Linked DNA regions of Homo sapiens: region 2 is linked to region 1. The links come from fine-mapping of genetic effects on gene expression. Tissue or cell type: lung. Region 1 holds a variant in brackets; the other region holds the start of a gene. All regions are shown on one strand. Distances are from middle to middle.

Evidence for each region. PIP is the estimated chance that this variant, and not a neighbour inherited with it, causes the effect.
Region 2: it holds the start of RAB35-AS1, and the variant in region 1 is fine-mapped to the expression of RAB35-AS1 in lung (TOPMed, PIP above 0.99).

Annotation. Positions count from the first base shown.
Region 1 is chr12:119,974,076-119,979,299 of GRCh38, forward strand. It overlaps LOC112268087 (a long non-coding RNA gene), which reads left to right. Exons shown (of 4, transcript XR_002957391.2): 4 at 943-1,122. Among named protein-coding and RNA genes, the nearest start is that of BICDL1, 13 kb to the right of the region's middle. The variant G/A (reference allele first, on the strand shown) is at 2,734.
Region 2 is chr12:120,114,733-120,119,956 of GRCh38, forward strand. It overlaps RAB35-AS1 (RAB35 antisense RNA 1), which reads left to right and starts at 2,175. Exons shown (of 1, transcript NR_182302.1): 1 at 2,175-4,271. It overlaps RAB35 (RAB35, member RAS oncogene family), which reads right to left and starts at 2,021. Exons shown (of 6, transcript NM_006861.7): 1 at 1,867-2,021. The coding sequence starts at 1,918. RefSeq lists enhancers at 1,212-2,004, 2,005-2,796, 3,589-4,380, 3,800-3,899, 3,930-3,999 and 2 more and silencers at 1,722-1,851, 1,952-2,261, 2,422-2,771, 2,862-2,921, 2,909-3,087.

The DNA of each region.
Region 1 (5,224 bases):
TCCAGCACTTTGGGAGTTCGAGGCAGGCAGATCATGAGGTCAGGAGTTCGAAACCAGCCTGGCCAACATGGTGAAACCCCGTCTCTACCAAAAATACAAAAAAATTAGCTGGACATAGTGGTGCGCGCCTGTAATCCCAGCTACTCGGGAGGCTGAGGCAGGAGAATCACTGAACCTGGGAGGCAGAGGTTGCAGTGAGCTGAGATCAGGCCACTGCACTCCAGTCTGGGCGACAGAGCAAGACTCCGTCTCAGAAAAAAAAAAAAAAAAAAAAAAAAAAAAAGCTTCTCTATGATGACTTATGCCTTTTGTTTTTTGTTTTCAAACCTGAGCTGTTTTCACAAGGCCAATACATCAGCTCCTATATTTGCCCTCATATTGTAGTGTAACCGGTTTGTCCTGTTGAATTTCATCCAGTATGAGACTCCCTATTTTTTTTTTTTTTTGAGGCGGAGTTTATTCTGTCACCCAGGCTGGAGTGCAGTGGCGCGATCTCAGCTCACTGCAACCTCTGCCTCCCGGGTTCCAGTGATTCTCCTTCCTCAGTCTCCCAAGCACCAGGGACTAGGGACTACAGGCGTGCGCCACCACACTCAGCTGATTTTTGTATTTTTAGTAGAGACAGGGTTTCACCATATTGGCCAGGCTGGTGTCGAACTCCTGACCTCGTGATCCACCCGCCTCGGCCTCCCAAAGTCCTAGGATTACAGGCGTCAGCCACCACGCCCTGCCTGAGACTCCCTATTATATGGTGTCATTGTATCAGCTATACCATAGAAATGTGCAACACGGAACACAGCATCTCAAAAATACAAACAACATTGTTACTACTTGCCAATTAAAAGAACAGACTTTCAATCAAGTTTCATGGTTGATAAACAAAGCAATTGGATATTGGGTTGACATTAACTTTGACAATTTTAACATACTTGTTTTTTTTAGATCTGCAAGAAATACATCTACCAGCTGGGTGCAGTTGAACAAAATCATTACAGGATTAGCAGTTTTCTGACCCACTTACTAAAAAGAAGCTGAATCACTGAATTGAGACCCCAGGGAAATGCAGATTTATACCTTTGATGTATTTCTTGATTTTTCTTAAATTAAATTCTATAATCAGTTTTTGAGTCTTTGCCATCTATCTTTTAATTGGGTGATTTCATATGTCTTCTTGAATATAAGCCTTTTCAAAGTTTTGATTTTCTGTAAATGCAAATGCATAATAAAACATACATATAGCTTTGTTCTATGCAATTATTTTCTAAACCCATCAGGAAGGCCTGCTTCTTTCCATCATCCCTTCCTTTATTAGATAGGGAGTGGGTGGGAGAAGTTGGCTGTCAGGAAAAGGAGTCCCATGCACTTTGATGTAGATGGGAGTTGAGGAAAATGGGGAAATGGTCACTTGATCCACAGGCACAGAACCCTGTTCAGTTCCCTGTCCCACTGCCAGATCTACCCCAATGGTTTTCCAAACATGGGACGATCTTCCTCCTCCTGTCAAGTGTTCTCATTTCTTCTCCTGCATCAATTGTAGTTTTCTCTAGGATGCTTTCTGCTGGATGAGGAAGAACTTTGCATTTTCAATCCCACTGATACATTTGTCATCAACTCACTCTTTTTTTGTTTGTTTTGTTTTGTTTTGTTGAGACAGGGTCTCATTCTGTCACCCAGGCAGGAGTGCAGTGGTGCAATCTCTGCTCACTGCAGCCTCAACCTCCTGGGCTCAAATGATCTTCCCACCTCAGCTTCTCAAAGTACTGGGATTACAGGCATGAGCCACCGTGTCTGTGTGAACAACTCGCTCTCATCATTGCTATGTATATTGATTTCACGCTTGCCTTTTTCCCTATATAGGTGAGAGGTCCTTGGCCATAGCCAAATCAAAGGGCCTAATTATCTGATTCTTGCTATTTTTCCAGTTTTCCTGTTTCTGGCAAGACACCATCATTCTGTTTGTTGTCCACATTGGTAACCTCAGAGGCATCTCTGAATCCTCCTTTTTCTTCATTCTCACTCTCTAATAGCTGATCAGACTCCAAATTTAGCAATTATTTCTCTTGTTTATAACATCTCTGACCTCTGTCTTCCATTCCATCAGAACTTCCATATAGATTCTTCCAGCAGTATTGTAATTGTTCTCCCCGACTCCTGACTCTCACCTTGAATCTATCTTTCACACCAGTGCCAGGTTAGTCTTCCTGAAGTACAGATTTATTCAGATTTCCTCACAGTTTCAACATGTCCAGTGGCTCCCCATTGTATCTAGCACTGTCTCCCTTCTCTGAATTTTTTATTATTTATTTATTTATTTATTTATTTTGAGAAAGGGTCTCACTCTGTCTTCCAGGCTGGGATTGCAGTGACACGATCTCAGCTCATGGCAACCTCCACCTCCCAGGCTCAAGCATTCCTCCCATCTCAGCCTCCTGTATAGCTGAGCTTACAGGCACATGCCACACGCCCAACTAACTTTTGTATTTTTTGTATAGACAGGGTTTCACAGGCCGGGCGTGGCGGCTCATGCCTGTAATCCCAGCACTTCGGAAGGCCAAGGCAGGTGGATCACTTGAGGTCAGGAGTTCAAGACCAACCTGGCCAACATGGTGAAACTCCATCTCTACTAAAAATACAAAAATTAGCCGGGCATAGTGGCATGCACCTGTAATCCCAGCTACTAAGGAGGTTGAGGCAAGAGAATGGCTTGAACTTGGGAAGTAGAGTTTGAAGTGA[G/A]CCAAGATTGCACCACTGCACTCCAGCCTGGGTGACAGAGTGAGACTCTCTCAAAAAATAAAGAGATAAATAAATAAATAAGACATGAGGTGTTGCCCTCTTGCCCACGCTGGTCTTGAACTCCTGGACTCAAGCAATCCTCCTGCCTCAGCCTCCCAAAGTGCTGGGATTACAAGCATGAACCATTGCACCCAGTCCTGTTTATGTTTTTTTTCTTCTTCTTCTTTCTTTTTGAGACAGGGTCTCATTCTGGAGTGCAGTGGCGTGATCTCGACTCACTGCAGCCTTTGCCTCCAGGGCTCAAGCGATCCTCCTGCCTCAGCCTCCAAGTAGCTGGGACTACAGGTGTGCACCACCATGGCCAACTAATTCTGGTTTATGTTTTCTATTGTTTATTAAGTTATAAACATTTTGAGGGTAAGGATCACAGCGTATACATATATGTTTCCCCCACATAATCTCCAACTTATCACATGATAGCCTCTATGCGATAAATGTTTTGTATGAGTATAGAGGTTAACACAAACCATGTGGACCATATTAATATGTAACAAATCTGGTATTCTGAGATCAAGAGTTTTTGTTGGTTTTTTGTCTTTAACATCTTATTGAGTAAACTCTGACTGTGTCTTAGCAATGTACTAAGTGCTTTAGACACATTATTCGTTCATTATAAAAATGTATCAAGTTCCTACAAGCCTGGAAAACATGGTGAACCCCATCTCTACTAAAAATACAAAAATTAGCTGGGTGTGATGGCGCCTGTCTCTAGTACCAGCTACTCAAGAGGCTGAGGTGGGGAGCATTGCTTGAGCCTGGTAGGCAGAGGTTGCAGCAAACAATGATTGTGTCACTGCACTCCAGCCTAGATGGCAGAGTAAGACTCTATCTCAAAAAAAAAAGTATCAAGTTCCTATCATATGTTAGGAACTGTGCTGGGCCTTAAGACCCACTAGTAACAAAATTATTTACTTACATAGTGCATAGAAAGGTTAACTAACTTTCCTAGGGTTATTTTGGCTAGTAACTGAGGGAGCCTTGACTTGAAACCAGAGCTTACTCTAGAAACCATGTTCTTAACCACTATATTAAATTTCCTGTGGTGTGAATTATGGACATGCCTTGGTGACGCCATGTCCATTTTTTTTTTTTTTTTTTTTTTGAGACAGAGTCTCGCTCTGTCACCCAGGCTGGAGTGCAGTGGCATGGTCTTGGCTCACTGCAACATCCACCTCCTGGATTCAAACAATTCTCCTGCCTCAGCCTCCCGAGTAGCTGGGACTACAGGAGCCTGCCACCATGCCCGGCTAATATTTTGTATTTTCAGTAGACACAGGGTTTCACCGTGTTAGAGAGGATGATCTCAATCTCCTGACCTCGTGATCCGCCTGCCTCGGCCTCCCAAAGTGAGCCACCGCGCTCGGCCCACACTCTTACACAAACACTGATGGAATACTCCTTGAGGATGAGAATCACGTTTTCTAAATTTTTTTTTTTTTTTTTTGAGATGGAAACTCACTCTGTCACCCAGGCAGGAATGCAGTGGCGTGATCTTGGCTCACTGCAACCTCCACCTCCCAGGCTCAAGTGATTCTCCTGCCTCAGCCTCCCGAATAGCTGGGACTACAGTCATGAGCCACCACGCTTGGCTAATTTTTGTATTTTTTGTAAAGACGAGTTTCACCATGTTGACCAGGCTGGTCTCGAACTCCTGACCTCAAGTGATCTGCCTGCCTTGGCCTCCCAAAGTGCTGAGATACAGGCATGAGCCACCATGCCTGATATGTTTTCTAAAATTTTCTAAAATCCTGAAATTCTCATATAATGAGATAATAATACCAAACGCACACCAACCGTCAATTGTGTCTCAATAAATACTGGCCAACTGCCTTGGTAACTATATAATTCAATAGATTTCCTTATAGTTTAGAAACTTTAAAAAATTATTTTGCTGGCTGGGTGTGGTGGCTCATGCCTGTAATCCCAGCACTTTGGGAGGCCAAAGTGGGAAGATTGCTTGAAGCCAGTCATTTGGGACCTGCCTGGTCAACATAGCGAGACCCTGTCTCTACAAAAAATATTTTAAAATTAACTGGGCATGGTGGCACATGCTTGCAGTTTTAGCTTCCTGGGAGGCTAAGGCAGGAGGATTGGTTGAGCCAACGAGTTCGCAGCTGCAGAGAGCTACGATTATGCTACTACACTCCAGCCTGGGCAACAGAGCAAGACCCTGTCTCTAAAAAATATAAGTGTAGGCCAGGCGCGGTGGCTCACACCTGTAATCCCAGCACTTTGGGAGGCCGAGGCAGGCAGATCACGAGGTCAGGAGATCAAGACCAACCTGGCCAACATGGTGAAACCCTGTCTTTACTAAAAATACAAAAAATTAGCCAGGTGTGGTGGCACACACCTGTAGTCCCAGCTACTCGGGAGGCTGAGGCAGGAGAATTGCTTGAACCCAGGAGGCAGAGGCTGCAGTGAGCCGAGATCA
Region 2 (5,224 bases), 140 kb after region 1:
TCATCACACAAAATGTACTGTGAGAAAGCGGGCCAAACCCATCCCCTGGGCTTTACAGAGGAGAAGAGCCAACAAGCTGCATCTTCCTGCTGAGTTTAGGCTTTTCACTGTTGGATATCAACGCAGAGGTCCAGATGTCTTGCAGAGGGATAAAGGCTCCTGACCACGGCGGGCTGTCACTCCAAAAAGAGAGAAATGGCCCCAGTGCCAGTCCCTCAGAACCCAGGCCAGGGCTGCAAGGAAATCATGTAAAGGAAGAAGCCTCAAGACCCTGAAGAATACCAAAGGCCATCTCCAAGAGAACACTCCAGAGCTTGCCTGGTTTCCCTTCATTCAAACCATAACCAGTCAGTACTCCACCTTTCTACCTCCTTCCCCAACCTCAGTTACTCTTCCATCTCCCTGGTTAGCCCCCAGCTTTCCCCCTTACCTCTCCCCTCCTCCAGCAACCACGGAAACCTCAGCCATCCTTCACCTGATCCAAACCACCAACCACATCTCCATCCAGCTTTAAAAGGGAGGCCAAAACCACCCACTTCCCTGACCTAGCTCTGACATCGCTACCCAACACTCCTACATCCCAAGTCATACCGCTCACTTGATTTGATCCCCTTTCCTTAACAGTCCATGGGCTCTACCACCAGCCTGGCCTCTGCCTCCAATCATAAGACATCCCTCCCCACACTCAGCTCAGGTCTGGTCTACAAACTGAGCATGCTCCCAAGACTCTTTCATGAACATCATATAACCCCAGCACCTCAGTTTCGCTCCCATAAACCTTCTGGGGCCTGCCTTCCTGACCTCTTGGTCACTCCATAAACCTGCTCACCTGCCACACTCCAAACAGCTCTAAAACCCTCCACCTTTTCCCAGAAACCAGTCTACCTTTTCGAAGGACACTTAATATTCATTAATTCCTTCTGCAAATATGTCTTAAGCATGTACTGGGTGCCAGGCACTGTTCTAGGCACTGGAGCTAGAGCAGTGATCAGAGCTAGGAGCCCTCAAGCAGTGTGTGTGTGTGGCCAAAGCACTTTTATAATTTTGGCTGTCCCATCCCCAGGACCCCTCTGTATATAGTAGTGTAACAGCAAACAGTGACAACTCACTATGTGCCAGGAGCTGTGAGCAACACTGCAGAATCTCACTTAATACTCACATCAACCCCATAAGGCAGATCCAACTATCATTCCATCTTACAGATGAGGAAACTGAACCACGCAGGGATATAATAATTCAGCAGGAATATGCCAGACCCTGTGCAAAGCCCTTTATCCGACTTACCTCATTTAAACCTCACGGCAATCCCATGAGGCAGGTTCTGAGAACGTCCTCATTTTAGATGGGAAGAAACTGACGCTTATAAAGGATACTGATGATAATGACAATAGTGAACATTTACTTCGAGCTTACTTTACCGGGTAGGGCGCTACGCACTTTTCCTACTTTATCCCATCGAATCCTCACACCACCCAGCAAGGCACATCCCCACTTCTCAGATGAGGGAACTGAGGCTCAGGACGGCGAAGCAACTTGCCCAAGGTCAGCGCGAGGCAGGTGGTAGTCCTGAGACTCGAACCCACGTCTCTCCAACTCCAGAGATCGCGCGACTTGACCAAGGTCACACGTGAGGCAGGAACAGGCGCGATGACTGGACCCGGCGCGCTTGGCCCCTCCGCCCCGCGCCCCAACCTCCCCTCGGCGCGGTCCGGAGCCCCTCGGCGCACCCCTGGGGCCCAGACCGCCGGGCTGCCCCGCCCGCCCGCCCCGCACGGGCCGGCACCTCCCCGCCCGCCTGCCGCCCCGAGGCCCCCGCGGGCCGCGCCCGGCAGGGCCCGCGCCGCCTCCGGCCGCTGCGGCCCTCACCGCTGTCGCCGATGATGAGCAGCTTGAAGAGGTGGTCGTAGTCCCGGGCCATGGCGGGCGGGGGCGGTGCGCGCGGGCGGGCGGGGTCGGTACTGGCCTCGCGATCCGCAGCTCCCTTCGGGCTGCTCCGGCAGCGGCGGATCCACTTCCCGAACAAACAGCCGGAACTGACAGAAACACCTCCCTCCGCTCCCCCTCCTCCTCCTCAGCAGCCGCCGCCGCTACCACCGCCTCCCTCCTTCCCGCCCCGCCCCACCACTGCGCAGGCGCAGCGTCTGGCACCGCCTTGCGCAGCCGCAGCCTGAGCCGGCCGCGCCCGGGTCGCGCACGCGCCCTGACGGAGTCCCAGCAAGCGCGGGCCCGTCTTCCTCGCGTCTCCTCGGGGAGCGTCGTCGCCGCCACCCTGGGCGCTGAGAGCTTGCGGAGCCGAGCCGCTGTCGAGTCCCAGCGGAAAGAAGCCCAAGGTGCCGGAGAAGCCCGGTCGTGGACGTTGTTGCTCCCTCATCTTCGAGACCCGCACGCCCTGCGGAGAGGAAATGACAGGCACGCCGCGACCGTGGGGCGGGGCTCGCACGAGCTCCGGGTTTCCAGAGGCAGGGGCCGGGGCCGTAGAAGGCAGAGTCGCGCGGGGAAGGCCCGGTACCCCGCCCCTTCCGCACCGACCCCTCCCCCGCGGAGCTGGCCCCGGCCCCGGGCCTGTGGAGTGGACGCCGAGGGCGGCGGGCGGCTTCCGAGTTGGACAGAACGGGAGCTGCCGGCGGGAGCAGAGCTGCGAGGAGGTGGCCTTTGAGGGCAGCGCGGGGTCGAAATCCCATCCCAGCGCTGTGACCTCTTGGAGCCCACATTGCCTCTTTGGTGGAGGGGAGGGAGTGGTCCAGCTCCGAGCCGAGCCTGGGAGCTGAATGACCCAGTGTGCAAGGCGCACCTCGGAGACCGAAAGCAACCGCTCCCCCGGCTTCAATTTCACACCACCTGCAGATACACGTCTCAGAATCTGCGGCTAGGAAGACCTGGGCCGCCAGAAGCTAAACGTGTGCATTTTGTCATCAGCCCCGGTTTCTCGTTTTAGAGTGAGTTCCCACCTGCCCTACCTAAACTGACCTGAAACGGAAAGTTGTATGCCCCCACGACCATCCTCACTGCAGAACTGCAGAGGGTTTTAAGCTCCTTATTACCTGTTTCTTATAATCCTGTCCCTTTCCAGGCGAGTATTTATCGGATAGTTCTACTTGTTTTATCAAACTTCCTTTTCTTTTGACTTTATAAAAAGCAATGCCGGGAGGCTGAGGCGGGAGAATCGCTTGAACCCGGGAGGCGGAGGTTGCAGTGAGCTGAGATCTCGCCATTGCACTCCATTCTGGGCAACAAGAGCGAAACTCCGTCTCAAAAAAAAAAAACAATGTTCGTCCTTAAAATTATGTGCAGAAGTTTACTGAAAAGTACAAGTTACTATTTTTCCTTCTGAAGCACTCCTCACAGGTAACCCCTGTTAGTTTCACAGGTAACCTTAAAATGCTTAACACATATTTGTTGAATGAATAAGTGCCCCCCAGTGAATTTCCTTTGCCTGTACAAACATATATGTACATACCTTGCTTTTTCTATTTAACAGTACACTTTTATCATTTAACATCTGCGTGGTATGGTACTCCATCCGATAACCATCGGATGTACTATTATTTAACCACTCCGCTATTAATAGACATTCATGCTGTTTATATTTTTTGGTTATAATAAACATTGTTGCAGGCGGGATCATTGAACAACACATGGAGTGTCTGACTCAAGCCTTGAGTTGTTTTTCCGGGAGCTGAGAATCAGTGTGGTGATATCGAAATAACATGAGCTTGGAATCTGAAGGTACTGGCTAGGGAGAAGAGCTGCTCATGTGCTCCCGATAGAAAGTCCCCCTTGGTCGGGAAGGTTAGGGCCATCCTCTGACTCAGCAGTTTTAGGAAATAGAGGGGGAGAAGGAAGGTATGTACCTTCCTTCCACCAGGGAGGCACGCCCAGCCCTAACCAGCCAGCGAGGCAGTAGGTCCTCCTAGCTCATCTTCACAACCTGGGCTGGTGTCGGGAAGACTTTCGTTCCAATGCTAGCTTTGGAATCCTGGCCTCCATCCCTTAAAAGCTTTGTGATCTTAGGTAAGTCACATCACACTATCTCAAAGCCCCCGTTTCCTCACAGAATGGTTGTTTTAGAGTTATGTTTGTAAATTACCTGGCACATGTAGGCATGTGACAGACTGTAACCAATGTTACTCAAGGTCATTTTGCACTGATTCATACTTTGAGCCATTTCCTACTGTAGACTCTAGCACACATTTTCAAGGCAGCTTCCTGATAATAAGGCTGTAGGATATTTTTGGGAAATAAATCCAAATTGGCCATTAAAACCAGATTCCTGACTTTGCCTGCATGTGTCATCTGGAAAGCAATCGGCATAAATTCCTTCATTTCTTTGGTAACTATTTAATGAGTGTTTATGTGCCACGGATTGCAGAGGTTATAAGAAGAGAGCCTTAGGCCGGGCGCTGTGGCTCACACCCATAATCCCAGCACTTTGGGAGGCTGAGGCGGGAGGATCACGAGGTCAGGAGTTCAAGACCAGCCTGGCCAAGATGGTGAAACCCCATCTCTACTAAAAATAAAAAAAATTAGCCGGGCACGATGGCAGGCGCCGGTAATCCCAGCTACTCGGGAGGCTAAGGCAGGAGAATCGCTTGAACCCGGGTGGCAGAGGTTGCCGAGATTGCACCACTGCACTCCAGCCTAGGCGACAGAGCAAGACTCCGTCTTAAAAAAAAAAAAAAAAAAAAAGGAACAGAGCCTTTTCTCACCAGTTCACAGCCTCATCAAGAGTTAAGACATACTCATGAGGAAATTGAAAGTATAAGACAATACAGTAGATAGAAAAGCTGTCAGATATGCAGTCTAGACTTCAGAGGAGGAAAGCTATAGCTTTTAGTTAGAATGATGGGGAGAAGATTTTATCATAAAGATGTCATGATGGCACTGGAATAGGAGAGCTTTGAGTGTCTATTTAGACAGTCCCTGTCACAGTCTATGAGAATCATCATTTGGCTTGGAGGGGAATTCCCTGCAGGCCAGGGTATGTGCCTGGCATCTCAAAATGAATCAGCACATTTTCTTCTGGAAACATTGTTAGACATTTATTTAAACTACAGTTCAGTGATGAGTTATGTTAAGCTTTCTTTCTCCTTCTCACTGTATACATATGTAAACTTGTGTGACCTAAAGGATCAGTGTGTCCAGTAATGGGAAACTTTGTTCCACTGCTCTGAACAGCTAACTTACAGATGAACTTTTGCAACACCACCTGTTTGCACATTAGAAA